Linked DNA regions of Homo sapiens. The protein of the gene in region 6 purifies or fractionates together with the protein of the main gene of each other region. This does not show direct contact. Each region holds a gene or a part of one and is shown on either strand. Other genes may lie near its edges.

The links.
Region 1: the proteins of SDHA (region 6) and SDHAF3 purify together in Homo sapiens (affinity purification with mass spectrometry; 2 studies listed by BioGRID and IntAct, with this or other methods). This does not show direct contact.
Region 2: the proteins of SDHA (region 6) and PDSS1 purify together in Homo sapiens (affinity purification with mass spectrometry; 2 studies listed by BioGRID and IntAct, with this or other methods). This does not show direct contact.
Region 3: the proteins of SDHA (region 6) and SDHAF4 purify together in Homo sapiens (affinity purification with mass spectrometry; 2 studies listed by BioGRID and IntAct, with this or other methods). This does not show direct contact.
Region 4: the proteins of SDHA (region 6) and DGKG purify together in Homo sapiens (affinity purification with mass spectrometry, with the first as the bait; one large-scale study listed by BioGRID). This does not show direct contact.
Region 5: the proteins of SDHA (region 6) and SDHC fractionate together in Homo sapiens (co-fractionation; one large-scale study listed by BioGRID). This does not show direct contact.
Region 7: the proteins of SDHA (region 6) and PDSS2 purify together in Homo sapiens (affinity purification with mass spectrometry; 2 studies listed by BioGRID and IntAct, with this or other methods). This does not show direct contact.

Annotation. Positions count from the first base shown.
Region 1 is NC_000007.14:97,116,221-97,120,497, reverse strand, and holds the start of SDHAF3 (succinate dehydrogenase assembly factor 3, mitochondrial precursor), read right to left. Parts: upstream 2,801-4,277; 5' UTR 2,775-2,800; coding exon 2,601-2,774; intron 1-2,600. UniProt on the Homo sapiens protein: Plays an essential role in the assembly of succinate dehydrogenase (SDH), an enzyme complex (also referred to as respiratory complex II) that is a component of both the tricarboxylic acid (TCA) cycle and the mitochondrial electron transport chain, and which couples the oxidation of succinate to fumarate with the reduction of ubiquinone (coenzyme Q) to ubiquinol.
Region 2 is NC_000010.11:26,721,701-26,725,200, reverse strand, and holds part of PDSS1 (all trans-polyprenyl-diphosphate synthase PDSS1), read right to left. Parts: intron 1,396-3,500; coding exon 1,284-1,395; intron 1,188-1,283; coding exon 1,078-1,187; coding exon of another isoform or gene 1,074-1,077; intron 1-1,073. UniProt on the Homo sapiens protein: Heterotetrameric enzyme that catalyzes the condensation of farnesyl diphosphate (FPP), which acts as a primer, and isopentenyl diphosphate (IPP) to produce prenyl diphosphates of varying chain lengths and participates in the determination of the side chain of ubiquinone.
Region 3 is NC_000006.12:70,580,430-70,583,929, forward strand, and holds part of SDHAF4 (succinate dehydrogenase assembly factor 4, mitochondrial precursor), read left to right. Parts: intron 1-3,500. UniProt on the Homo sapiens protein: Plays an essential role in the assembly of succinate dehydrogenase (SDH), an enzyme complex (also referred to as respiratory complex II) that is a component of both the tricarboxylic acid (TCA) cycle and the mitochondrial electron transport chain, and which couples the oxidation of succinate to fumarate with the reduction of ubiquinone (coenzyme Q) to ubiquinol.
Region 4 is NC_000003.12:186,355,735-186,359,234, forward strand, and holds part of DGKG (diacylglycerol kinase gamma), read right to left. Parts: intron 1-3,500. UniProt on the Homo sapiens protein: Diacylglycerol kinase that converts diacylglycerol/DAG into phosphatidic acid/phosphatidate/PA and regulates the respective levels of these two bioactive lipids.
Region 5 is NC_000001.11:161,313,100-161,317,180, reverse strand, and holds the start of SDHC (succinate dehydrogenase cytochrome b560 subunit, mitochondrial isoform 1 precursor), read right to left. Parts: upstream 2,801-4,081; 5' UTR 2,776-2,800; coding exon 2,756-2,775; exon of another isoform or gene 2,307-2,755; intron 1-2,306. UniProt on the Homo sapiens protein: Membrane-anchoring subunit of succinate dehydrogenase (SDH) that is involved in complex II of the mitochondrial electron transport chain and is responsible for transferring electrons from succinate to ubiquinone (coenzyme Q).
Region 6 is NC_000005.10:224,820-228,319, reverse strand, and holds part of SDHA (succinate dehydrogenase [ubiquinone] flavoprotein subunit, mitochondrial), read right to left. Parts: intron 2,902-3,500; coding exon 2,758-2,901; intron 2,438-2,757; coding exon 2,273-2,437; intron 136-2,272; coding exon 1-135. UniProt on the Homo sapiens protein: Flavoprotein (FP) subunit of succinate dehydrogenase (SDH) that is involved in complex II of the mitochondrial electron transport chain and is responsible for transferring electrons from succinate to ubiquinone (coenzyme Q).
Region 7 is NC_000006.12:107,267,565-107,271,064, forward strand, and holds part of PDSS2 (all trans-polyprenyl-diphosphate synthase PDSS2), read right to left. Parts: intron 1-3,500. UniProt on the Homo sapiens protein: Heterotetrameric enzyme that catalyzes the condensation of farnesyl diphosphate (FPP), which acts as a primer, and isopentenyl diphosphate (IPP) to produce prenyl diphosphates of varying chain lengths and participates in the determination of the side chain of ubiquinone.

The DNA.
Region 1 (4,277 bases), on a different chromosome or scaffold from region 6:
GGGGGGAAAAAGACTTGGAAGTCTTAAGTATATTACTCTCTGGTGATAAAACTTCTCTAGCCAGGTTTTTCTCCCCTCCAATCATTAGCATCTTCTCTAGCCCTACTCTTTCAAAAAGACCAGTTCTTCAAGTATCTTTCCTGGTAGGATCCAACCTACCACGTCTAACTCCCAGGCTTAGATTAAGCTGCCTTGTAACTGTGATAATTATGTTATACAAAGAGATTACTACGTTTAAATTTATCTTTACCCAGCTGCCAATTCATTAATTCCAGTAGATCAACAATGGTCGGGGAAGACAGGAAAACTGTTCTCTACAGACGCGTGTCAACTAATAAATTCAGAAGGAATGAGGGAAACAAAAGAGCCACCATTGGAACACAATGGCAAAATCCATCAATGAATGCTAAGACTAGTAATCATCTGAAAGCCTGAGAGTACCTACCCCCAAATATGTATTAATTTCAAAAGAGAAAATAGTAAGTTTACAGTAGAGACACCACGTGGATTATTACTTTAACCAAGTGATCACAGTTATCATCACCAGTAAGAAGTCATGTTAGTATCATGTGCCCTCTGACATTAAGTGTTGAGGCGAACACTTTGCCCATGTGGTATTCTTACTGAGATGTTATGAAATGCATAACATCAATTTAACCATGAGAAAACATCAGACAAACTCAAATTGAGATACATTCCACAAAGTAACAGACTAGTACTTTTCAAAAAAGTATCAAGGTAATGAAAGATAGGAAGACGGAGCAACTGTCACAGAATGGAGATTAAGGAAAAAGAATAACTAAATGCATTGTAGAATCCCCATTGGATCCTGGAACAGAATAAGGACATTAGTGAAAGGGCTGGCAAATTGTAAATAAAGTCTGTAGTTAACAGCATTGTAGCAATGTTAATTTCTTGTTTTTGATCACTGTACCCTGATTATGTAAGATGCTAACACAGGGGGAAACAGGATGTAGGGAACTCTCTACTGTCTTTCTAACTCTTCTGTATGTCTAAAATTATTCCAAGTTTTAAAAAGCTCAATCCCAGTTACCAAGCCTACTAGGTCAACTAACACATTTTTTATTTATGCAGTTCTTTTTTATACCCTCTCTCTCTCCTACAACCTATTATCAATTTTTTCTGAGTTGCTACTCTTTCCTACTTTTTCCCAAAGAGGCTTCCATGTGCTTACATTTTAAGACTTCTTAAAATAACCTTATTTCCTCCCAACAGAGAGCTACTCTCCTTCCTGTACGGCCACAAAATGACCTACCATAAAAGATGTAAAATACTTTAATACAGTATCTTATAGCTTCATAACAATTAGCAATACACAAGTGCTTGTAAATACATTTACATACGTAAATTTTGAGATGCATAAACACTTATTATTTTATAGATGAGAAAATAAGACTAGAAAAATTATGTGATCTGACACTTAAAATGTCAGAGACTGAATCTGAATCCAGTTCTTCAGGCTCCAAAACCAAATTACCTTATTAAAATAAAGTGCTCTGTGTCTGAAAAGCTTCAACTTCCCTGCTTCAGGCAAGCGAATTACATCAAATACACCATGATTTTCAAGAAAGTTCTAAATTTCCCGATTGTTCTAAATGTCGCTCTTAAAAGCTTCAATAATTATACAAAAAAGAATTCTGGAAGTCAGTGCAAAGTTTGTGTTCACCCTAACCATTCTTTTGATTTTTTTTTACAAAGCCGACTTCAGTCATCTCCCCTTCAACTATTTAGGCCGAAGAACCGCTTACCTCTATTTTCATATCAGCTCCAACTCATGCTTTCAAATATCTGAGCTGTCATTCCAATCTCTAATTCCATTCATTTATTTATATTTGCAAATGAAAACTAGGGGCAATCCTGCAGGGCCCCGAGCCCCACGAAATACTCTGAATATCTTTTTTCCTTTACTCAAAAAAAAAAAAAAAAAGTCAAACGACTTATTGCTAATGCATGTGTCTGTTTAATATTTAGCGCAATGGTGCAGGGCGAAGTAACAATGACTTGAGACCGGAGGAAACAACTTTCGCCTGACTTAACTGCCACCAGCATTTTTCTCCTTCACAGTTTGTAATCTCCAACCTTTTGTAATCTTTTTCATGTTACCTGATTTCTGTATCAGCCAAGTGAGAAAATTATTTAAACCCAACCAAAAGCGCTGAGATTAAATAATAAATTACGGAAATAAGCCTTTAAATTTGAAAACTAATAAGAGAACCATTAATTTATTAATGGGCGCTTACTAGGTGCAAAGGCACTTAAAAGGACAAAAAGCTCCTGAGGTTTTTGAGCACTTAACGACGACTTGCTCATTTTTGTGACCTCCTACCCTCACCCTTTGAGCACCTGGCATCTGCAGGAGCTCAAAAGTTGAACTGAATTGGGGACGCTGAAGTAACAGGATCTGCTCTAGTGAGAAACCCGTGGGAGAAACTTTGGAAAGTGTTACCTGAACAGCATTACGCTATTTCAAACAGAACAGGTTGCTGCTCTGTTTAACCCCGCATGGGGGACTGGAACTAGAAACCTGGACACCGAGGAACCCCAAAGGTCTTGGGCAAAGAGAAGGGAGCGTCACTTGCCTCCCATTCTTGCAAGAAACGCTGTGCCTCGTCAGAACCAACGGTCTTATGTCTCCTAAATTCGTCTTTCACGTACTGGTCGCCCAGGGATTTGAGGTCCGGGGGCAGAACACGGTGCAGCTGCAAGACGCGCTTGTACAATGCCCGGACTCGAGAAACGTGCCGCCCCGGCATAGCGCCCCACGCCGACCGCCGACTGCGCCTGCGCAGAGGGACGGCGCGTTCCCGCACTTCTGCGAACTTGCGTATTAGTGAACCGGAAGGCAGACGAAAGAGGGCGCGCGACCTCTATCCGGTTTGGTCCCTTGCACAATCAGGTCCTCCCGGAAACCCAAGCTCCGCTGCGGGCGGAAAACGGGTCGGTCCTTCTCTAGGAGGGGCGTGGCCCTCGTGGAGTCGCGCCTGCGCCTCGTCGTGGCTTCTTCTGGCCTGCGTCCTGACGACACAGGCCTTGAAAGAGAGAGGTCTGTGGTGGGCCGTTGTCATTTCTCAGTCCCACTCCACTGTCTTTTTCATTCAACTTCGTTTCTGTCCTCCTACCAAAGGCCTGAGAAAAGCTTCGTTAAGATCGGGCTCCTCCGGGATTCCTTCCATGGTTCCCAACCCATTTGAGGCATTTAGAGTATTACTGCACCCTGCTTTAGGGATCAGAGTGAGATTAATCTCGCCATCCACTAGCTCACCAACCCACGCTCTTTGCACAGCGCTGTTCTCCCAATTTATACTCTGGGCATGGGCTCTTCCTTGCAAACAACCCAAGTGAGCCCAGAGCTGGCGGACTCCTTAGCCAAAGTCAAGTTGGCTGCTGAAGGATCCTTGGGAAGAGTTTTAAACGTATTGTTTCCAGGACCACGACCCTGGAGATTCTGGTTAAATAGTCTAGGATAATAAGAACGAGGAATCTAGAAATTTACAAAGCTCTATCTTTTGCGAAGGTAATACTGAGAGTAGAACTGGTTTCCAAAGCTGGCAGCTCCTTGTGTTGTCCTTTCCTGTCACACGTTTGGTTCTTCAGCAAATCCTGATGGCGTCACCAACAAAAATGCAGAAATCAACCATTTCGCCCCATGTACTCTACCACAATCTCTCTCCACTGGATATTGTGTTAGCTTCCATATCTGTGTTCAGCTTCTGGTCATGACCAACTTTGGTCATGCTCCAACATAATTTAAATTAAATTTGGCCTAAAATTTCCTCCCTACTCTGAGTTGCTATGTAGGGAACTGCAACCTAACTTAGTATGTAAATTAACTGCAACTGAGAGTATATTCTTGTGACAAGTAGCTGAGCTTCAGCCAATCACAGGCTGCCAACTGATCAGACTATGTGCATATAAGGCAAATACGTCATAATGTCCTGCCCAAATAAGACTAGCCCAACTGTAAGCAATCAAGCTGTTTCTGTGGGGCACTTCCTTTTTCTGTCTATAAATACTGCCTGCCCACAGTGCTGGGTAGAGCTCTCTGAACCTCTCCCTGTTAAGTGCTGCTGCCTGATGAATGCCTCATAAATCGTGTGTGTGTGTGCACGTGCGCTCGTGCAAATAAACTTTATTAGATTTAACTTGTTTAAAGTTTTTCTTTTAACAATCTAAACTGTAAATCGGATCATTTCACTCCTCTGCTCAACAAAAGCCTCCAGGGATTTTCATCAGAGTAAAGCCCAGTCTCTAGCCCT
Region 2 (3,500 bases), on a different chromosome or scaffold from region 6:
TTTGTGGCTGTAATTACATGGGAATGTCATTTGTCCAGGTTTTGTCTCTGTGTATCTGTCAGGCTTAGAGATGGGCAGATAAACAATTCTATGGAGAGACTGCTTTTCATTCTTGGACTAACGATGAATACCACACATTTGTCTACGGATTAAAGGTATTACTCATTAAAAAAAAAATGTATACATGTGTATGCACAGCGGAGGGAGGGAGAAAGCAAGGGGAAAAACAGTTATGGCTTATACTCAATTTGTACTCTGAAGAAATAGGACTTGTTTATATTTCATGTAAAAATATTAGAAGGATTGGCCAGGTGCAATGTATTGGCCAGGTGCAATGGCTCATGCCTGTAATCCCAGTACTTTGCAGGGCCAAGGTGGGTGGATCACTTGAGGGCAGGAGTTTGAGACCAGCCCGGCCAACATGGCAAACCCCCATCCCTATGAAAAATACAAAAATTAGCTGGGTGTGATGGCGCACACCTGTGGTCCCAGCTACTAGGGAAGCTGAGGCAGGAGAATTGCCTGAACCTGGGAGGTGGAGGTTGTAGTGAGCCAAGATCACACCACTGCTTTGTAGCCTGGGCCACACAGCAAAAGACTCTGTCTCAAAAAAACACAAAAAACAAAAAAACAAAAAAAAGTTCATAGAATGCTAGTACAATCTAACAGATATCTTTTCCTGAGTAAATATTATATTAAAGAACAGAGCACTTCATTTCTAAAAGGTGAAGTGTCAGAAAGAGTGTGTGTGATATCAATCATTAGAGAAATTATGATAAATTGTTCAAAATGATACAGTTTGGCAATCAGATTGGGGAAGGTGCGGGAAAGCTTATTTTGATTGAATTCTTGGGAAGAAAAGATGAAAAGTCAACGCCTGCATACCAAAAGAAGATGGCAAAAATGAAAACACAGCAGAAGTCCTCTATTGTTTGGGGATGTCATTCTTTTCCTCATTAACCTCTTGGGATTTTTGGGTACTATTTTAAGATTCTTCACCGAAATATTTTCTAGGAAAATTAGCTCCCAAAAAAGAGCTATGAGGCTTTAACTTGAAGAAAGACAGAACGTACATACTGCTTTACAACTGTTGGCTATCAGGCTGGCGGTCTTCTTGAATGTCTTCTCAAGGTAGTGTGCAAATCTTTCATTCTCATTTTCTTTTGACCCGAGCTGAAGAAATTCACCTATAAAGAAGGAAAGGAGTCATTTGAGAGGTGGCTTTATTGCCTGGCTAAACACCAGGGTTGAATAACAAAGAAGAAAAATCAGAATCAACGTACCACGCACCAAATCTTCAATAACTTGGGTTAAAATAGATATAACAGTTGTATTTCCAATTCGTGCCAGAGCTATAGATGCTGCAGAAAGAATTAAATCTCCAGCAAGAACAGCCTAGAAAAAGACAGGGGGAAAACAGAACGTTCTGAAAAATCCATCAGAGCAGTAGAGCCAATGATGAAACTGACTGGAAGGGAGCTTCGTGGAAGTGGGGGCTCATCTTGGATGCAGGGTTTTTTACCTTCTTCTTCCTCAACAGGAGTCCGTAACAATCAGTTACAGATTTGGAACAGTGTTTGAACTGGACTGGCTCTCAGAGATGACCATGTCACTTCCCAGTTCGTAATAATCAGTTACAGATTTGGGACAGTGTTTGAACTGGACTGGCTCTCAGAGATGACCATGTCACTCTTCCCAGTTTCTAATAATCGGTTACAGATTTGGGACAGTACTTGAACTGTATTGGCTCTCAGAGATGACCATGTCCATCTCCCCAGTTGACACCTGAAGAAATCAATGCCTGGAGAGGGAGAGCAGCTTCACTCACCAGCCCCACCAAAATGCAGCTGCCTTCAGTTTCACTACACTGGATGTTCATTCTTCCTTTGTGCCTTTCCACTTACTGTTCCTTCTGCTCAAAAAGTTCTGCCCCCTTCTTCACTGAGTGGACTTATTTGCATAATTGGTTCAGATGCCACCTCTAAGAAGTTCCCCCCGATCCCTCAGTCTGGTCAGATGCCTCCCTTTTGTGCGTGTACAACACCCATGCATGCTGCGACCATCACACCTTGCGTACCAGTCAGTGATGCTCTAGTCTCTATGCTCCCAGGGCAGTGGGGAGGGTGGAGTGGAGTGGGAGCTCAGACTAGGAATCATCTCAGCTAGTACTGAGCACACCCCAGAGCATGGCACGATACATGTTATTTTCAATAAAAATTAAACCAAAGAATTTTGGCTCCAAGTGAAATGCTTTTTGTACTATGTGACACTGCCCCTCATTCCTAGACAAAAAAAAAAAAAAGTTTTTCCATTGAACACTAAGCAATCAACATATTTCCAGTCTTCTTTAGACTGTGATGGATGTCTACACTGTATTAGCAACTAGTTATAAACTACTGCATAAATAGTTGAATTATATGCTATAACCAAATACACCCTATATATCACATTAATTTGCATATTTAAAGATATATATTACATTCTTTTTTTTTTTTTTGAGAAAGAGTCTTGCTCTGTTGCCCAGGCTTGAGTACAGTGGCATGACCTCGGCTCACTGCAGACTCTTCCTCCTGGGTTCAAGCAATCCCCCCACCTCAGCCTCATGAGTAGCTGGGACTACAAGCGTACACCACCACGCCCAGGTATTTTTGTATTTTTACTAGAGATGGGGTTTCACCATGTTGGCCAGGCTGGTCTCGAACTCCTGGCCCCAAGTGATCCAACTGCCTCGGCCTCCCAAAGTGCTAGGATTACAGGCGTGAGCCACCACACCCAGCCGTAAGTGTTACATTCTGTAGTAATTAGTCATAAAGGCTAGAGTTCACAGAATTTTTAACATAACTATTTAGGTACTTATTGTCTTAGGTTCTTCAGTATCTAAACAGTGATGTTCATTGTGTTTACCAATTAATCACCACTTTATATAATATACATATTATGTAAGACATCCTGATGTAAGTATATGCCTATAAAGTCATTTTACAAATTATGATATATAGGTACCCACTTACATTCCCCGACCCAGCCCCTACATCATTAGCAGCTCAAGGCTCGGGATCCTTTGGCCTTTAGTTCCTTCTTCACCTGGCCGGGGAGATCCTAGAGACCAAAGGTCCAGCATATGACATGGAAGCCACAGGACTGTGACGGCCAGGGGTGGGAGTTAAAGGAAAGAAGTGCTAGGAAGCCCAGGCCAGGCCTAACAAGGGCTCACCGAGGGGGCACTGTGTGTGGGGGGTTTTGTACCGGTAACATAGCAGTTGTGGGTCAGAGGCAGAAACAGGTAGGAACTGGCAAGTAGCCCTGTGCTAAGCAGATGGCTGTCAGAACTGAAAGAGGCAGGTGAAGGCGGCACATGTGTCCTTGACCTGCCCTCAGAAAGAGGTCCCCAGTGGCAGAGGCAGACACACAGGGGCTAGCCAAGGCGGAGACCATCATTTGTTCTCTTGATCCTCTTCCCCCGCCCAAGGCTCCACATAAGGCTTTAGGACTGGCTATGC
Region 3 (3,500 bases), on a different chromosome or scaffold from region 6:
AAAATCAAACTTAGAACTACCGTTTGACCCAGCAGTTCCACTCTTAGGTGTGTATCTAAAGGAATTGAAAGCAGGGACTTGAACAGATATCTCTGTAACTATGTTCATAGTATTATTAACAGTAGCCAAAAGGTGGAAACAACCCAATGTTCACAAACAAATGAATCATTAAACAAAATGTGGCATATACATCCGGTGGAAAACTATTCAGTCATAAAAAGCAATTAAATTTTAATATATGCTACAACATGGATGGACCTTGAAAACATTATGTTTAGTGAAATAAGCTGGACCCAGAAGGGCAAATATATGATTCCACTTATATAAGGTACCTAGAATAGGCAAATTCATAGAGACAGAAAGTAGAATAGAGGCTATCAGGGACTCCGGGGACTAAGGGAGAAGTCATTGTTTAGTGGGTACAGAGTTCATTGTGGGGATGATGAAAATGTTTTAGGTATAGATAGTGGTGATGGTTGTACAACCTTGTGAATATATTTTTGTTGTTGTTTTTGTTTTTGAAATGGAGTCTCACTCTTTCACCTAGGCTGGAGTGCAGTGGCACACTCTCGGCTCACTGCAACCTCCGCCTCCCAGGTTCATGTAATACTCCTGTCTCAGCCTCCCGAGTAGCTGGGATTACAGGCACACCACCACACTGGCTCATTGTTGTATTTTTAGTAGAGATGGGGGTTTCACCATGTTGGCCAGGCTGGTCTTGAACTCCTGACCTCAAGTGACCAACCCCCCTCGGCCTCCCAAAGTGCTGGGATTACAGGCGTGAGCCACTGTGTCTGGCAGTGAATGTATTTAATACTACCAAATTGTACACTTACAAATGGTTAAATGAGAAATATTATGTTATATATATTTTACCACAGTAAAAAAAAAAGAAAGCAAAAACCTGCACTTTTCAAAAGCTAATCATCTATTTGACATAATGGTAGGCATTCAACGTAAGTCTTGTATCACTCAAGTTTATGTTGAACCTACCATCCCTTAGAAATTTCTGACAAACATCACCAAATACAGCAGGTACTCTTCAATCCTTGTTTTATTTGAACAATCCACAACCTTTGACAGTGTTAACTATTGCTTCTGGAAATCTCCTGCCTTGATTTCCATTATGCTTTCATTAGTTTCATTTTTGTGTGTGTATGTATGTGTGTGTGTGTTGTTTTGTTTTGTTTTGTTGAGACAGGGTCTTGCTCTGTTGCCCAGGCTAAAGTGCAGTGGCATGAACACATGGCTCACTGCAGCCTTAACCTTCCCAGCTCAAACTGTCCTCCTGCCTCAGTCTCCTGAGTAAGTGAGACCACAGGCACATACCACCATGCTCACCTAATTTAAAAAATTTTTTTGTAGAGATGAGGTCTTGCCATGTTACCCAGGCTGGCCTCAACTCCTGGGCTCAAGCAGTCCTTCTGCCTCGGCCTCCCAAAGTGCTGGGATTACAAGTATGAGCCACCATTCCTGGCATGCTTTCTTTAGTTTCTCACCCTATTTCTTCACCAGTTTCTTCCTGGGCTCCTTTTTGAGCTCCTCTGCCTCCGCCCAACACCTAAATGTGGGTATTTGCCAGGCCTCTGTTCTTAGCCCCCTAAGTATTCCAAGGGAGATTTCATATTTCCCTAAAATGATTAGATTTATTTGATTGATTGAGGCAGAGTCTCACTCTGTCACCCAGGCTGAAGTGCAGTGGCGCCATCACAGCTCACTGCACCCTCAACCTCCTGGGGTTCCCTACTCAGCCTCTCCTGTAACTGGGGCTACAGGCACGCACCACCACACCTGGCTAATTTTTCTATTTGTTTCTTTAAGAGATAGAGCTCAGTATGTTGCCCAGGCTGGTCTTGAACTCCTGGGCTCAAACGATCTTCCCACCTCAGCCTCCCAAAATGCTGAGATTACAGGCATGAGCCACCACGCCCGGCTTAAAATGATTTTAAATATCACCTATGTGTTGGTGATTCATACATTTATACCTCTAATCAGACCTCGTTCCTGAGCATCACTCTCCTGTCTCCATTTGCCTCCTGAGTATCTTTCTTTGCACATTCCAGAAGTCTCAAAATTAATATTTCTAAAACTAAAGTCATCGTGTACCCATTGTTCCAACTCACCTTCGGCCCTCCCACCTGCCTGATCTCATATCCTCCTCTTCCTTCGGGATTTCCAGTCCACCCCATCTACCAAGTCACCCAAGCCCGAAATCTGGGGATAATCTTTCACTCCTGCCTCTTCCTGTCTCCTGTGACTGATCACTAACCAAGTCCTGTTGCTTCTACCCTTTTAACATCTCTCAAATTTATTCCCTCTTACTCATCCTACCAGTAGGGCCCAAATTCAAGCTGTCTCTAGCTCCACTGGTCACCTAACAAGCCTCTCTGCTTCCTCGTTTCCTTCCTTCTAGTCTTGTCTCCCTGCCTCTAGTATGTACTTTATTCTAAGAAAACTGTGTAGGTTGTCTCCTTGAAAAGAGTAGATTTCATTATTAAGATCATAAAGGAAAATGTTTGTAGCTAGGCACCCTGCTTGACATAAAGATGAATAAGAAAGGAAGATGAGATAATGTAAATAACGATGAACAGGACATCATGTGGTAACTAGCATGAGAGATACACAAAAAGATCAGAGGAAAGTCGACAAAAGAGATAACGTTTGAGCTGGGGTCTAAGGAAAAATAATTTTTTGTTTTTTTGAGTTGGAGTCTCGCTCTGTCACCCAGGCTGGAGGACAATGGCGCAATTTCAGCTCACCGCAACCTCCGCCTCCCGGGTTCAAGCGATTCTCCTGCCTCAGCCTCCTGAGTAGCTGGGATTACAGGCGTCTGGCACCACACCTGGCTAATTTTTGTATTTTTAGTAGAAACGGGGTTTCACCATGTTGGTCAGGCTGGTCTCGAACTCCTGACCTCAGGTGATCCACCTGCCTTGGCCTTCCAAAGTGCTGAGGTTACAGGTGTGAGCCACCATGCCTGGCCGGAAAAGTAAAATTTTTATAAGTAGATAAGGTGTGGTGAGGAGACATTTCAAAATACCTGGAGAAAGCTATGGTCAAAGAGAAAGAGGCTGCAGAACATTAACACTTACAAGACACAGCTAATGGGCCTCTTTGGCTTCAGCATAAATTATATATATATTTGATTAATACAGGGTTGTCCAATCTCTTGGCTTCCCTGGGTCACATTGGAGGAAGAATTGTCTTAGGCCACACATAAAATACACTAACAACAGCTGATGAGCTAAACAAAAACAAAAACAAAACAAAACAAAAATCACACAAAAAAACTCAATGTTTTAAGAAAGTTTATGAATTTGTGTTGGGCCACATTCAAAGCCATCCTGGGCCACATGCAGCCCGTGGACTGTGGGTTAGACAGGCTTGGATTAATTGAATATAAAGCTAGACACACAGGTTCAGCTCAAATCTGGGAGGGCCTGAAATCCCAGGTTACAGTGTAAGGGCTTTATGCAGTGAGCAGTGAGGAAATGTATTTG
Region 4 (3,500 bases), on a different chromosome or scaffold from region 6:
TACCACCAGCATCACCACCACCATTACCACCATCATCACCACCACTACCATCACCTTCATGAGAAATAAAGTTCTACTTTTTAAAATGGGAAAATTTATAAAAATGTCTTAATTTGAGGGACTGATGTTAATTCCAGGGAACATTCTGGAATGGGATGTGGAATGAGCTTTTAGGATTGAAGCTGTGATTTCAAGGAACCAGCATGGAATCACTGAAATTAGTTTATGTCAGACCAACAAAATTGCTTCTTTGACAAGATTATTGGACGGAAGATCAAGGAAATACCAGTGATGAAGAATATTTGGAGTTTATCAGAGACCTTTGATAAGATTCTTCTAATAATGTTGAAAAAGATGAAGAAATATGGGCTCAGTTATAGTACAGAAAGCTGAATAAATTTTCTAAGTAAGTGCTGTTTAATTATTGAATTAATATCTATGTTTAGGGAACATACAGTGGAATGCCTCAGAATCCCATAGTGTTCATTATTTTTATTGATGACTTAGATGAAGAGGTCGTGCTCATCAGATTCAGAGATGGCAGGAAGCTGGCTGAGAGGGCCGGTAAATACACTGGATGCTAGAATCACAGCCAGAAATATCTGGGCAAGTTGGCGAGGCAGACTGAACTGAACAAGATAAAATGAGAAACAATGCACAGTCTCTAGAGTGGCTGTGAGGGGGTGTGGGCAAGTATCGGGTGAAGGCGAGCAGGTGGGCAATGCAGTTCAAGAGCAAGTTTAAAAGAGAATTGGGTTACTTCAGTTGATATTAAGCTCAACAGGTGTCAATGGTATAGATTCTTAATTAGACCTTAAAGAGTTTTAATAGAAATAGGAAATAGAATGAGGAGGTGGTAATTTCAGTCTTCTCCATGCTGATTAGGACTCCCTTGAAATTTTGCACTTTATTCTTTAAGAATAAAGAAATTAGAGAAAACTAGGACAAGAGTGATGATAATAATAGTGAGGGCACTGGAGCAAATGGCCCATGAGGTAGGGTGGAGCAGTGAAAAGGGCGTTGGCCAGGGATTTGAGAGCCAAGTTACCCCATTAATAGGTTGCGAGATCTTAAGAGCTGGTTCAGGACTCCCTGAGGAGAAGCACAGACTATGGTGGTTGACTGGTCTGCTCTTGTAGGTTTTTGGTTCCCCGCCCTTTTCCCCCTTCTCTTCCAGGGGAGGAGATGGGGCCAGCATCCACCAACTCCCATCAGTAGGAGAGGGGAGAGTTGCTGGCTTCTGGGTTCTTTCCTCGCAGAGGCTCATGCATGCACAGCCTGGGCCTCTGGGAGTGTCCAGGTTGGAGGGATCCTCGCCATCTGTTGATGGTGTTGTGTGGGGAGTTGGAGCAGTTGGGGGAGCTGGAACAGATGATCTTAGTAGTTACTCCCATCTCTGAGAGTCTAGATTTCAAGACACGCTGAAATCAGGTCAGGCCACACTATGGATGGGTTCCTTTCTCCCTCCTTCACCCATCCAGGGACAGGTTCTCTTAAGACCCTGAGCAAAATTTTGCACTCTTGATATGTGATTCAGAGTCATAAATTATACCCATTGTTTCTCTTGGAAAGCTTTCAAAAGTCCCCTTTCTGTGATTTCCCAGGAAGCCAAGATGGTGGCAATCCTAATCCACATCACAACACACAGCAGTTATTGAGGCAGTAAAGCAAAAGGTCCAAGAAAAAAAGAGAAGATAAATAAAGAGAAAAGGCTTTGAAATCATATAGACCTGAGTTTCAATCTCAGTCTCTCCTATCAGCTTTGTGACCATAGGCAAATTACTGAAACTTTCTGAGACTCAGTTTCCTTATCTGTGAGATGGGGTTAATACCAGGAGTGTAGTGATGTGAATATCAGGTGAAGCTATGCGTGCACAGAACATAGCCCAATGTGGGACTCAGAGTCGGTGCCCAGTAAGTGCTATTGCTAATATTACCACAACATTTACTACCACCATCCCTCCTTTATCTTTCTCTCCCTCATCTCTTCGGGGCTAGGCACTGTGCTAGTGCAGAGGATACAGTGGAAAACGAGACAGACATAGACACACACTTTGCTTGCACCAAGCTTACACTGTAGCACAGTCCAGTTAAACTTTTTGCAATGATGGAAATCTTTTAAATGTGCATTCTCCAATATGATAGCCAGAAATCACATGCTGCATGTAAGCACTAGCAATGTGACTGGTGTGACCGAGGAACTGAATTTTAAATTTCATTTAATTTTAATGAACTAAAGTTAAACAGGAAATAGTCACATGTGAAAACAGACAGCACAGCTCTAGACACCTTTCAGGTATATTTCTGGGACTGACTAGCCTGAGCAGAATAAAGGTATGCTGAAAGAGAAATGCACGTAAAGCATCCAGTACAGGACCTGGAAAATTCTCTTATTCGTTCATTCGTCACATTTAATTGTTGACTATGGATTGGCACTATCTCAGGTGCTGGGGATACAGAAAAGGATTAGACATGGTCTCTGCCTTCAGGGGGCTCATAGTTCAGTGGGAGATATGCAAATAGTGACTTCGCCATAGCGAGGTAAGCTTACGCACAGGTGCTGTGGATTCAGGACATCTCTAGGGTGGGCTTCCCTGAAGGATGTTTCCGGACCTGAGCTGAATCTTGCATAAATTGATCTCAGAGTGGGAGCAACAACAGATTATATTCCAGGGCTACTAAACCCACTGCTGGTGGCAGAGGTGGCTTGGAGATCAACGAGGCTCTAGGAACAACTCATAGCTAGGGCCAGTTTGTTTTCTTCTAACCCTTTGTGTGTGTGTGTGTGTGTTTTGTATTGCCTAATTCAATCTCTCTTCTGCCAGCCACATTTTGTTTCCACCTGAGGACATTTTTTTTAAATGATGGGTATAACTTTATTTTTAAATTGTTTTATTACTATTAATAGTTACTAGCCTTGATTTCTTTTTTTTTTTTAGTCAGACAAACTCTGTTACTTATAAAGTGACATCAGCTCTCACTATGGTTGGGTGTGGAATTCTGATACTTGGTACAAATAAACAACTCTTTGAATATGGCCAGTATGTGAGGAAGCTGTTGCTGATGGGTTAAGCTTGCTGAACCTGGCTGTGATCATGATGCACGTTCACAAGAGTGAATGTTGTTATAATGACTTGTATGGAGAAGTGGGACATTATACACATTTGTATATTTTACATGATGGTTTGATTTGTTCAAAGTTAGTATGTGACATTTAGCTAGAGAATTCTGCAGCTGATACTTGCTCACATAAAAATAGGTATAGCTTTATGTTGTATGGTTTCCATAATCCCTCCCGAGTGTATAAAGCAAGGTGATATGTGTGATTCCTTCTTCCATGAGACTGAAGAATGCTCGTGTGATGTGGCTTGGTCGTGTGAGGCCTTGGCCTATTTGGATTCCTAAAGGTCATCTGCTTGAACTATGGCCGAGTTGTTTCTGGTGAATGGAATCCTAAATTAGTGTACCCTTTTTGAAAAGTGGCTTCTCATATATACTGT
Region 5 (4,081 bases), on a different chromosome or scaffold from region 6:
GCGTGGTGGCAGACCCCTGCTGTAATCCCATCTACTCAGAAGGCTGAGGCAGGAGAAATGCTTGAACCCGGGCAGGGGCGGTTGCAGTGAGCCAAGATCGTGCCACTGCACTCCAGCCTGGGTGACAGACCGAGACTCCGTCTCAAAAAAAAAAAAAAGAAAAAGAACCAAAAAAAAAGAGACCCCCAAAAAAAGAACAAAAAGAAAAGTTTAACCAATATTTCTCTTAAGTGGGCCCAAGTTATTGCCGTTTGCAACACAAATGAGGAAACCAAAATCATGGAATCAATGACCTTGACTTGTCCAAAATAAATGTAGAACCAGAAATCAGCTCCTAGGATTTCTCAGAAGGTATTTTCCTTTGAGGTTAAATCAGCACATTATAAACAGTTCCAAATCCCTCTAGTGAAATGGAATTAGACTGGGAACTTCTATCAAGAAAAAAAAAATTTTTAATTCCTCATTTATCCTCCTAAAAAAATCCCTTATGAGAAATGGAGGTGTCCTTTCCACGAGAGCTTCAGATTACCACTAATGAAAAATATACCTTTCTTGGCATTGAATCCTAGTGTGGACTATGGGGAAAAGAAAGAGAGATCAGATTGTTAAGGTGTCCGTATAGAAAGCAGACATAAGAGACTCCATTTTAATCTGTAACCCTACCTCCAACCCTGTGCTCCCTTAGACATGTGCTGTGTCAACTCAGGGTTAAATGGATTAAGGGCTGTGCAAGATGTGCTTTGTTAAACAAATGCTTGAAGGCAGCATGCTCATTAAGAGTCGTCACCACTCCCTAATCTCAAGTACCCAGGGACACAAAACACTGCGGTAGGCCGCAAGGACCTCCGCCTAGGAAAGCCAGGTATTGTCCAAGGTTTCTCCCCATGTGATAGTCTGAAATATGGCCTCGTGGGAAGGGAAAGACCTGACCGTCCCCCAGACCCCCGTAAAGGGTCTGTGCTGAAGAGGATTAGCAAAAGAGGAAGGAACGCCTCTTTGCAGTTGAGACAAGAGGAAGGCATCTGTCTCCTGATCATCCCTGGGCAATGGAATGTCTCGGTGTAAAACCCGATTGTATATTCCATCTACTGAGATAGGGGAAAACCGCCTTAGGGCTGGAGATGGGACATGTGGGCAGCAATACTGCTCTTCAAGGCATTGAGATGTTTATGTGTATACGTATCTAAAGCACACCACTTAATTCTTTACCTTATGATGCAGAGACCTTTGTCCTTCTCTCCACTATTATCCTATGACCCTGCCACATCCCCCTCTCCGAGAAACACCCAATAATGATCAATAAATACTAAGGGAACTCAGAGGCCGGCGGGGATCCTCTGTATGCTGAACGCCGGTTCCCTGGGCCCCCTTTTTTCTTTCTCTATACTTTGTCTGTGTCTCTTTCTTTTCCAAGTCTCTCGTTCCACCTAACGAGAAACACCCACAGGTGTGGAGGGGCGACCCATCCCTTCAGTGGACAGCGCTGCACAACTCAAAATGATACTGTATGGATACACTTAATGACTATAATGATCCTCAGCTTTTAAACACTAATTCCAAAACTCCTAAAATGAACTGTTTGGAACCAATATGATCACTTCAAACTAAATGTTAATTTTACCAAAAGCCCCTAACATCGATACCAAAATATATCAGAGAATTCAAAAGCATTCAATTATGGTCAAACCATCTGGAATAAAGAAGACAGCACTGGCAAGACAAGCCTTGGCATACCTTAGACAGAAGATACATATGGAGATGAAAAACAGGGAGAAAATGAAGGATTAAGATAACCCTGATTTCAACTCCAAGAGGAATCATTTTGTCACAGAAAAACTAAACAAAGTCCCTCTATTTTTAAACTGGGTGACTGAAGTGGAAAGAGAAATGAGAACACATTTGGGGAAATCAGGGATTGAAATCTCAACAGCATTGAAGCTAACTTTCCATAACAAACAATTTCCAAAAATAAGGCTGGCACAAAACTATGCTGGGATTTGTACCAGGCGTGTCTAAAGGCGCTAGTCGCTGTGACTAGAGAGGCTGAGCAGAGAATGAGACCTAGACAGCGGAAAGTTCAGAATGAAAGAAAATCTAGGGTATTTCTCTGGACAACTAATTCACATTTTAGAGAAAAACTGGGACACTCACTCTCCCTCCCAAGTAAAATGATTAACTAAAAATGAATTCCCCGGGTTGCTCTGGGGCAGCAGAGGTCCGCCCTGGGTGCTAATGCTAATCGCCACCCCAGTAGGGATCCACCCTTTGCCAGCAGCCCGCTGGGAACCCAGACAGCGCCCACTCACGGTGGGAGCAGCTAGTGTCTGAAGGCATTCGAAGCAAAGGCAAAATACACGAAGATCTCTCTCTCCGAAGCTAAATGTCTAAATACGCTCTCGAAATCGTAGGACCCATGGGTGGCTGACCTTGAAGTTATTTTCTCAGAGCTCGGCTCTGGGTGCAGGCCCGAGAGCAATTTGCGTTAGAAGTACTAGAGGAGGTGGGGAAAACAGAAGGGGCGAGAGCCGAGGGCCCCTCGATACGAAGTCAGTGACCCCGAAGCCCTACGGAGCGCACCGGAGCGGCTGGGGGGGACGGGAAAAGGGGTCTCTAGGATCCCCGAGCGCTTGGCCTCCACACCCATGGGTCCTTTCCCTGCCCAGGCACAGGATAAACAGTTATCAGCAAAACGTGAGGGGCCAGTTCAGATCTCCGGAGGGCCGCAGGCACCAACTCCCAGTCCCACTGAAGTCACCTCAGCAACAGCGCAGCCATCTTGGGTTCCGGTCTGGACGGAAGTGACGCCAGGCGGCCCCGCCACCCGAGGGCGGAGGCGCGCCGGCTGGGGGTCGGGGTTGGGGGTGTCATGTGACGAGAGTCTCTTTAAAAGGCTCTGGAGCTTCTCCGCTCAGCTCTGCCTAGCTGGTTTGCTGGTTGTTTTCTGGTTTTTTAGTCTCCTCCTCCGCCTCCTGCAGCCGACTTCTACCGGAATTTGCCAGGATTTCGGCAGAAACGCCGCTGGCTCAAAATCTGCAGTCTACGTTCCACCTGCGTACATATTCATTTTGTATCGCACTCCCAAACAGCAAACGGCGGACTTGTTTAGATTCTTCCTTAAGGACTTCGCAGTCTGTTGCGTTCCCCCTGCCTCCCAGGTCGGCCTAAAAACGTGGTGGTTGGCCGGTTGAGACCCCGAAGAGAAAAGATACTTTGGGTTCCCTCCCTTTCTAATACGAAGCTTTAACCAGACAGATACATAAATTGTGACCTAAGTTGGGGAGTGTGTAGAGGGGCCTCGAGAAGACCTTGCGGACCACCATTCCCGAAAACGAGGAGCCTCATCTAACCACCTCGATTAGACCCCACAATTCCTGGGTTTGAGCTGCCACATGGACCAGGCGCCCACTAGCCGAGGACAATGCTCCCTTGTTCGTTGTTTCAGCGCTATGTGGGTGACACCCACAGCTAGAAGAACCCGGAGTGAGGGGAAGAACACGCTTTGATTTATATATGTGTATATATATATATACAGTTTTAGGGAACCCAAGCACAGGAATCAACTGCCGAGCACTCAAGACTGAAGAAAGAAGAAGAGCAAATGATAAAGGAAGGGAACAGAGCACAAAAGTTCTTGACTCTTGTGGGGAGTAGGGTGGAGAGGAGTAAAAGGGACAGGCTAGAGCAACTCCTATTTCTACAAAAAAAATACTCAATTATATTAATATTCAGATCTTATGTATATTTAGCATCCCTGCACTTCAGGATTTAAATAGCACAAATTCACTTATTTCTGCATCAGATGAATAATACTACTTTGCATTTCTATAATGCTTGACAAAGCACATTCGTACACTTTAGGATTGAAAGAGGCTCTCTAATCCAATCTACTATCTATGCAGGGATCTCCTCTGCAACACCCATAACAGCTGATCTTCAAGACTCTACCCCCCCATATTCAATGATGGGTACCTCAAACAACAAGTTTTATTTAATGAACAACTTATTCGTTAGTTATTATATTTAAATACAGTTTTGTGCTATCGAAATTCCAGTCATTGACTTGGCTCTCTGGAGCTTCACG
Region 6 (3,500 bases):
AGTGTTCTTTGCTCTTATGCGATGGATGGACCCGTCCTCTATGCACAGTGCGATGACACCACGGCACTCCCCATTCTCCATCAGGAGATCCAAGGCAAAATACTCCACAAAATAGCTGGTATCATATCGCAGAGACTAAAAGAAAGGAAAAAAAAAGGGCAAGAAGTGTTAAGCCAAACTTTAAGGTTTTAAGGTGGTATCTGCTCATGTGAATAGGTGAAAGAACTTGATCCAAATGGACCAGGTAAATCCAAGGAGATCAGCAACAGTGTCAGTGACACTGTCAGAGCCCGAGAGGCATTCCACGCCGAGCAGTACAGACAAGGCAGGTGTGCTAGAGAACGCAGCAGCAACAGCTCCTATTTTGGTGACACATTTCCTACTTCTACACAACCCGAAGAGGCACTCCACACTGTCCGGTGGCCGCATGCAGCTCCACTCGGAGTCTGGTGCCAGAGTGAGGTCCGCAGACCATGCAGTCACAGCCCAGATGGGAGCTACTGGCAACACATAACCACTTAATTAATTAAAATAAGTCAAAACATTCAGCTCTTCAGCTACACCTGCCACATTAGCAACAGCCCCATGTGGCTGGCAGCTACCAAAGCGGACGGTTGCAGACGAGCAGATTCCGGCACCGCAGAAAGGTAGGCGCCGGACAGCGCTGCCCGCCTGGACCTGCCGTTCCCTCAGCCAGCACAAGTCGCTCTTGTAAGCCTGGGCCAGCTCCCCACATGACAGCTCCTGCTCCAGATGGAGCCGCGGTCTCCTCCCACCACACACTTGTCGATGCACTCAGCCACAGAGAAGTCACTGGTGTTCTAACAACCTGCAAATTAACGATCCGTCCCCATGCATCAGAAAACAACAAAGTTCAGAATATTGATTACTCTGAATCAATACCGTTCAGAATATTATTTGGCCATGCCAAAGTTGACTCTGATTACCCAGTAACTATTGTCACCTCAAGTCTTTCTTCAGTGTTAACAGTTAATATTAAAACAATCCATGGCCGGGTGCGGTGGCTCACGCCTGCAATCCCAGCACTTTCGGAGGCCAAGGCAGGTGGACTGCCTGAGCTCAGGAGTTCGGGACCAGCCTGGGCAACATGGGAAACCCTGTCTCTACTAAAATACAAAAAATTAGCCAGGCATGGTGGCGTGCGCCTGTAGTCCCAGCTACTCGGGAGGCTGAGGCAGGAGAATCACTTGAATCCAGGAGGTGGAAGTAGCAGTGAGCTGAGATTGTGCTACTGCACTCCAGCCTGGGTGACAGAGTGAGACTCCGTCTCAAAAACAAAACAAAACAAAACAAACAAAACCAATCCATTCAGGAACTCAGAGGTGGTAAAAGAGACTTAAAATACTTGTTCTTTTTTTTTTTTTTTTTTTGAGATGGAGTCTCATTCTGTTGCCCAGGCTGGAGTGCAGGGGTGCGATCTCGGCTCACTGCAAGTTCCGCCTCCTGGGTTCACGCCATTCTCCTGCCTCAGCCTCCCAAGCAGCTGGGACTACAGGTGCCTGCCACCATGCCTGGCTAATTTTTTTGTATTTTTAGTAGAGACGGGGTTTCACAGTGTTAGGCAAGATGGCCTCAAACTCCTGACCTTGTGATCTGCCCGCCTAGGCCTCACAAAGTGCTGGGATTACAGGCGTGAGCCACCGCACCCAGCCTGTTCTTTCTCTTTTTTTGAGACAGGGTCTCCTGTTGCCCAGGCTGGAGTGCAGTGGTACGAACATGGCTCACTGTAGCCTCAACCTCCTGGTCTCAAGTGATCCAGGAGCCTCAGCCTCCTGAGTAACTGGGATTACAAGCATGTACCACCATGCCCAGCTAATTTTTAAACTTTTTGTAGAGACAGGGTCTTGCTATGTTGTCCAGGCTGGTCTCAAACTTCTGGTCTCAAGTGATCCTCCTGCCTTGGCCTCCTAAAGTGCTGGGATTACAGACCTGAGCCACTGTGCCTGGCCTGCTTGCTCTGCTCTTGTATGTTGAGTGTCACATATCCCAAGTTAAAACCTGGTATGTAAGATTATCGATTCAACTTTCTGACATAGATGCAAGAAGTCACACACTGCCTTAGGGACAGCTCCTCAAGGCACACGTCTGGTCCTGTCACATCCACAGTCGCTGCATGCGCCCCACGCTGCTGTTCTCTGTTGCTTTTTACGTAATCTCTGGCTGACTCACTGGGCACGCTAACCCATTCCCCACTGTCACCATAAGCCCCAGCACTACGTGTCCTGTCTCAGGTGGACGGGGGCGGCCTTACCCTTCCATATAAGGTGTGCAATAGCGAGTGGCCAGTCCGATCAGCCACACAGCAGCACCGATGGGCCTGCCCGCCCTTTCCAAACTTGAGGCTCTGTCCACCAAATGCACGCTGATAAATCTTCCCATCTTCAGTTCTGCTAAACGGCATGCCATAATTTTCTAGCTGTGAAAGATAAAAACAAACAAAAACCTTAACACCTTAAAGGAGTCAAGATATTCGCAGCTAATCTACACTAAACAAGTTTAACACAAATCTGCAAACCCAAAGTAACCTATTTTATGAAAATGTCAACACTTCATCAAAGAGAAGTTTTCTTGTTACATATAATGCATAGTTCATAACGGAAAAAGACTCTTCTTGTGAACTTTGCTCATCACCATTCTTTTGGCTGCCACATCCGCCTCAATTGCTTACATTTTTTTCCAGGATTCTTTTGTACTAGAAACAGACCACGAGAACACCCAGAGCCTCCCGCCCATCACCTCGACCACGGCGGCGGGGGCCTGCTCCGTCATGTAGTGGATGGCATCCTGGTCCCCCAGCCAGTCGGAGCCCTTCACGGTGTCGTAGAAATGCCACCTCCAGTTGTCCTCCTCCATGTTCCCCAGAGCAGCATTGATTCCTCCCTGGAAACACCAACCACTCCTTACAAGCCACAAACAGGAGCGCCAACTTTGTCTTCCAGGCCCAAATCCACCCGCTGGGGGGATTCAGAGAAAGCCAACTACTCACACAGTGACTCCCAGTGAGGGCTGACCTCAGCAGAGGAGCAGCGAGACCCGACAGATTCCAGATCACAACCCCTCCCCGACTCGCCCAGTGATTCCATCCTTAGCCTCAGTCTCCTCATCTGCGTGGTGGAGACACAGGGAACTCCAGGAAGGGCTGACTGGAGCAGTGAGTGAAAGGCTACCTGTAATATGCTTATAACCTAACCTATCTGGCACAGAAAAGGTACTCAACAAATCTTTCCAGATAATTTTATTAACAAATCTTCCCAATGGCATTTACGGGCATGTGTTAAAGACTAGAAGTGCTTCCTGCCAAGTAATAAACTCCACACTCAGAGTCGCACTCCCCTGTACCCCAGCTTCCTTTGGCTGTGTGTGCCCACCACTGTCTTACCCCTCAGAGAGTCCCAGAAGACAGAAGCACAGGGACAAATGAAACCCTTGCCCTTTTCTTCCCCAACCTAAATTCTGATTCCTCCTCTTTAGGTGATCTC
Region 7 (3,500 bases), on a different chromosome or scaffold from region 6:
GAGAGAGACATCAGATTCTCTTTCTTTTTTTTTTTTTTTTTTGAGACAGGGGCTCTATTGCCCAGGCTAGAGAAACAGTGGTGCATTCATAGCTCAATGCAGTCTCCAACTCCTAAGCTCAAGAAATCCTACCACCTCAGCCTGCTGAGTAGCTAGGACTAACAGCATGCACCACCATGCCTGTTTTTTGTTTTTTGTTTTTTTTTTCTGTAGAGACAGGGTCTTGCTATGTTGCCCAGGCTGGTCTCCAACTCCTGGGCTCAAGCTATCCTCCCACCTCCATCTCCCAAAGTACTGGGATGATAGGCATGAGCCACCATGCCTGACCAAGATTCTCTAATAGTCTGCTTAATAGGATCAATTCATTTTTTACTTTAGCTTTTAAAAAAATATGAATATAAATTAGATATTAAAGGTACCATACTACTTTCTCCCTTAAATTCCGCAGGTCTACCTCATGAGTATATGTGCTAGCCAAAAATGCAAACACATGATGAGAAGGTAGGGCAGAATGTTACTTGTCTCCTAGTATCTTTTATCTGTATCTTCCAGATTTTTGGCTGGATCCATGATGACCTACAATAAAAATTACATTTTCTAGCTTCCCTTACAGCTAGGTATGGCTATATAATTAAATTCTGGTCAACAGGATGTAAGCAGAAAAATCTCATATAACTTATGAGAAATGTCTTTAAAGTGTGAATACTATATAATTTATCATGCAAACTGGGACACAAGAGTAAAAAGAAGCGCTGAAACAACTAAAATTTTATACTTTTTGAAATATGTATTTATTTCAAAAACAAACAGCTGATTTTATTATATTGAAATAAATATGTATTTATTTCAAAAACAAACAGCTGATTTTATTATATTGGTGGACTCAACAGGTTCTATTCAAAAACTGTTTTCAAAAATAAAATTTCAAAAGAAATAAAAATAACATACATGTACATACAATAGAACAATAACTTCTTTATACTGATTATCTGAATATTTAAAAATAATGAGAATTATTATTGATGTATATCTACATAGTTTAATCCATTTCTTAGACATATCTGTCTCTAATATTGTGTCACTGGCATTTTTCTGAAGAATGTGTTCATTAAAATACAGTATTTAAAAATAAAACTGCCCGCAATATTCTTCACAGTTGCAGTTTATGGTTAGTTTGAAATTACTGATACTTTCAATTATGGAGAAAATTCTCTTTCTACAGGTTCTAAGTTACCTGATAAGTTCAGAGTAAATTTGCTAAATGGAGGACATAATTCTAATTTTAAAAATGTTGAACAGTATAAATATTTCAGCCCAAATATTTTTAGAGGCACTCTCTTTTTGCTTCCATCAGAGTATCTTACTTTAACAAATAGTATTTTTTTTTTTTTCCATACGGAGTTTCGCTCTTGTTGCCCAGGCTGGAGTGCAGTGGTGCGATCTCGGCTCACTGTGACCTCAGCCTCCTGGGTTCAAGCGATTCTCCTGCCTCAGCCTCCCAAGTAGCTGGGATTACAGGCATGCACCACCATGCCCTGATAATTTCAGGGTTTCATCATGTTGGTCAGGCTGGTCTCGAACTCCCGACCTCAGGTGATCTGCCTGCCTCAACCTCCCAAAGTGCTGGGATTATAAGCGTGAGCCACTGCACCTGGCCTAACAAATATTTTTATAAGACAAAACTTGTCAAATAAGTTGTCTCTATGATTCTTTTCAATGTTTTGCCAAATTTAGATGGTGCAAAATCTAGGCCTTCTCAATCTCATTTCGTGTGTCTGTGTGTGTGTGTGTGTGTGTGTGTGTGTGTGTGTGCAATTTATTCAAAGTAGGAGCACCACCAAGATTCTTCCTGCAAGGTGAGACATTTCAAATCGCAACTACAGAACTGAAAATTTTAATCTTGTATATCGTTTGAGTTGTTACTGTTTATATCATTCCTTCTTTGCTTTTGTCAGGAAAAATTCTAATGGAAGTTTTGTTTTGTTTTCATTAATTGTAATTCCCTAAAAGTCTCATGTAGTGTTCTGTTTATTGAATACTTGATTTAAGATTCTCAAGTGATGTTGAACGAAATGCTGCCAATTATTATTAGTAGTAGTAGTAGTAGTATTTTTTGACACAGAGTTTCACCCTGTCACCCAGGCTGGAGTACAGTGGCGTGATCTGGGCTCACTGAACTGAAACCTCCACCTCCTGGGTTCAAGTGATTCTTGTGCCTCAGACTCCTGAGTAGCTGGAATCACAGGCATGCACCACCACCTCTGGCTAATTTTTGTATTTTCAGTAGAGACGGGGTTTCACTATGTTTGCCAGGCTGGTCTCAGACTCCTGACCTCAAGTGATCCGCCTGCCTTAGCCTCCCAAAGTGCTGGAAATACAGGCGTGAGCCACCGTGCCCAAATGCCACCAAACTTTTGATGACCCATTTAGAATAAAGTTCAATACCACTGTTGGGGGCACAGATTGATTTATAAAGATTTCTAAAATCTGATCAACGACAGACAACAAAGAGAAAAGGCACATACTGCTCTGCTGAAGTGTATTATTATTATTTTTTTTTTGAGACCGAGATTCGCTCTTGTTGCCCAGGCCGGAGTGCAATGGCGTGATCTTGGCTCACTGCAACCTCCACCACCCAGGTTCGAGCGATTCTCGTGCCTCAGCCTCCCAAGTAGCTGGGATTACAGGCATGTGCCACCACACTCGGCTAATGTTCTTTGCATTTTTAGTAGAGACGGGATTTCACCATCTTGGTCAGGCTGGTCTCGAACTCCTGACCTCAGGTGATTCACTCGCCTCAGCCTCCGAAAGTGCTGGGATTACAGGCATGAGCCACCGTGCCTGGCCTGAAGTGTATTTTTCATCTGACATCCACCGTGCCTGGCCTGAAGTGTATTTTTTATCTGACATCAGTTACAACTCCCAAATCATATAGTTCAGTGACTGTGACTATTCAGATATTTGTAAATTTTGATGTAACAATAGCTTCTATTAAAATAGAAGACTTTTGGTGCTTGTTTAGATGTAATGATCAATTGTGTGTGTGCCACAACCAATGTCAACTACTCCACAGGTTGCTTAACGTAGTAAAAACATTGTTTTTACCACAACACTGTGCTTCACCAAAATTTGTACTTCTATTGTTACTATAAACTAATAATTTTATTTTCTATATTGAACTTTTAAACTGAATTTCCAATCTCACTCACAAAGGCTTTATGTTTAATAGAATATACTTCCAAAAACTTTACCTTAATCCCATGAATGAATGGAAAGAAAAAAACCAAACCATTTGTAGAATTAACTTAAATGATTTACTTACTTGAAATACCTGATGACACTGAACTAAAACTGGAATTATTTAACTGCTTTCAAAGTTCTTCTACTGACAATGATGCAAAAGAACTATTGCTTCCCTTTTCCTATATACACATAAACACTTGTAGTTGATAATCAGTGCAATCACTTAGCATAGTCATTTCTCTAAATATAAGTTATGT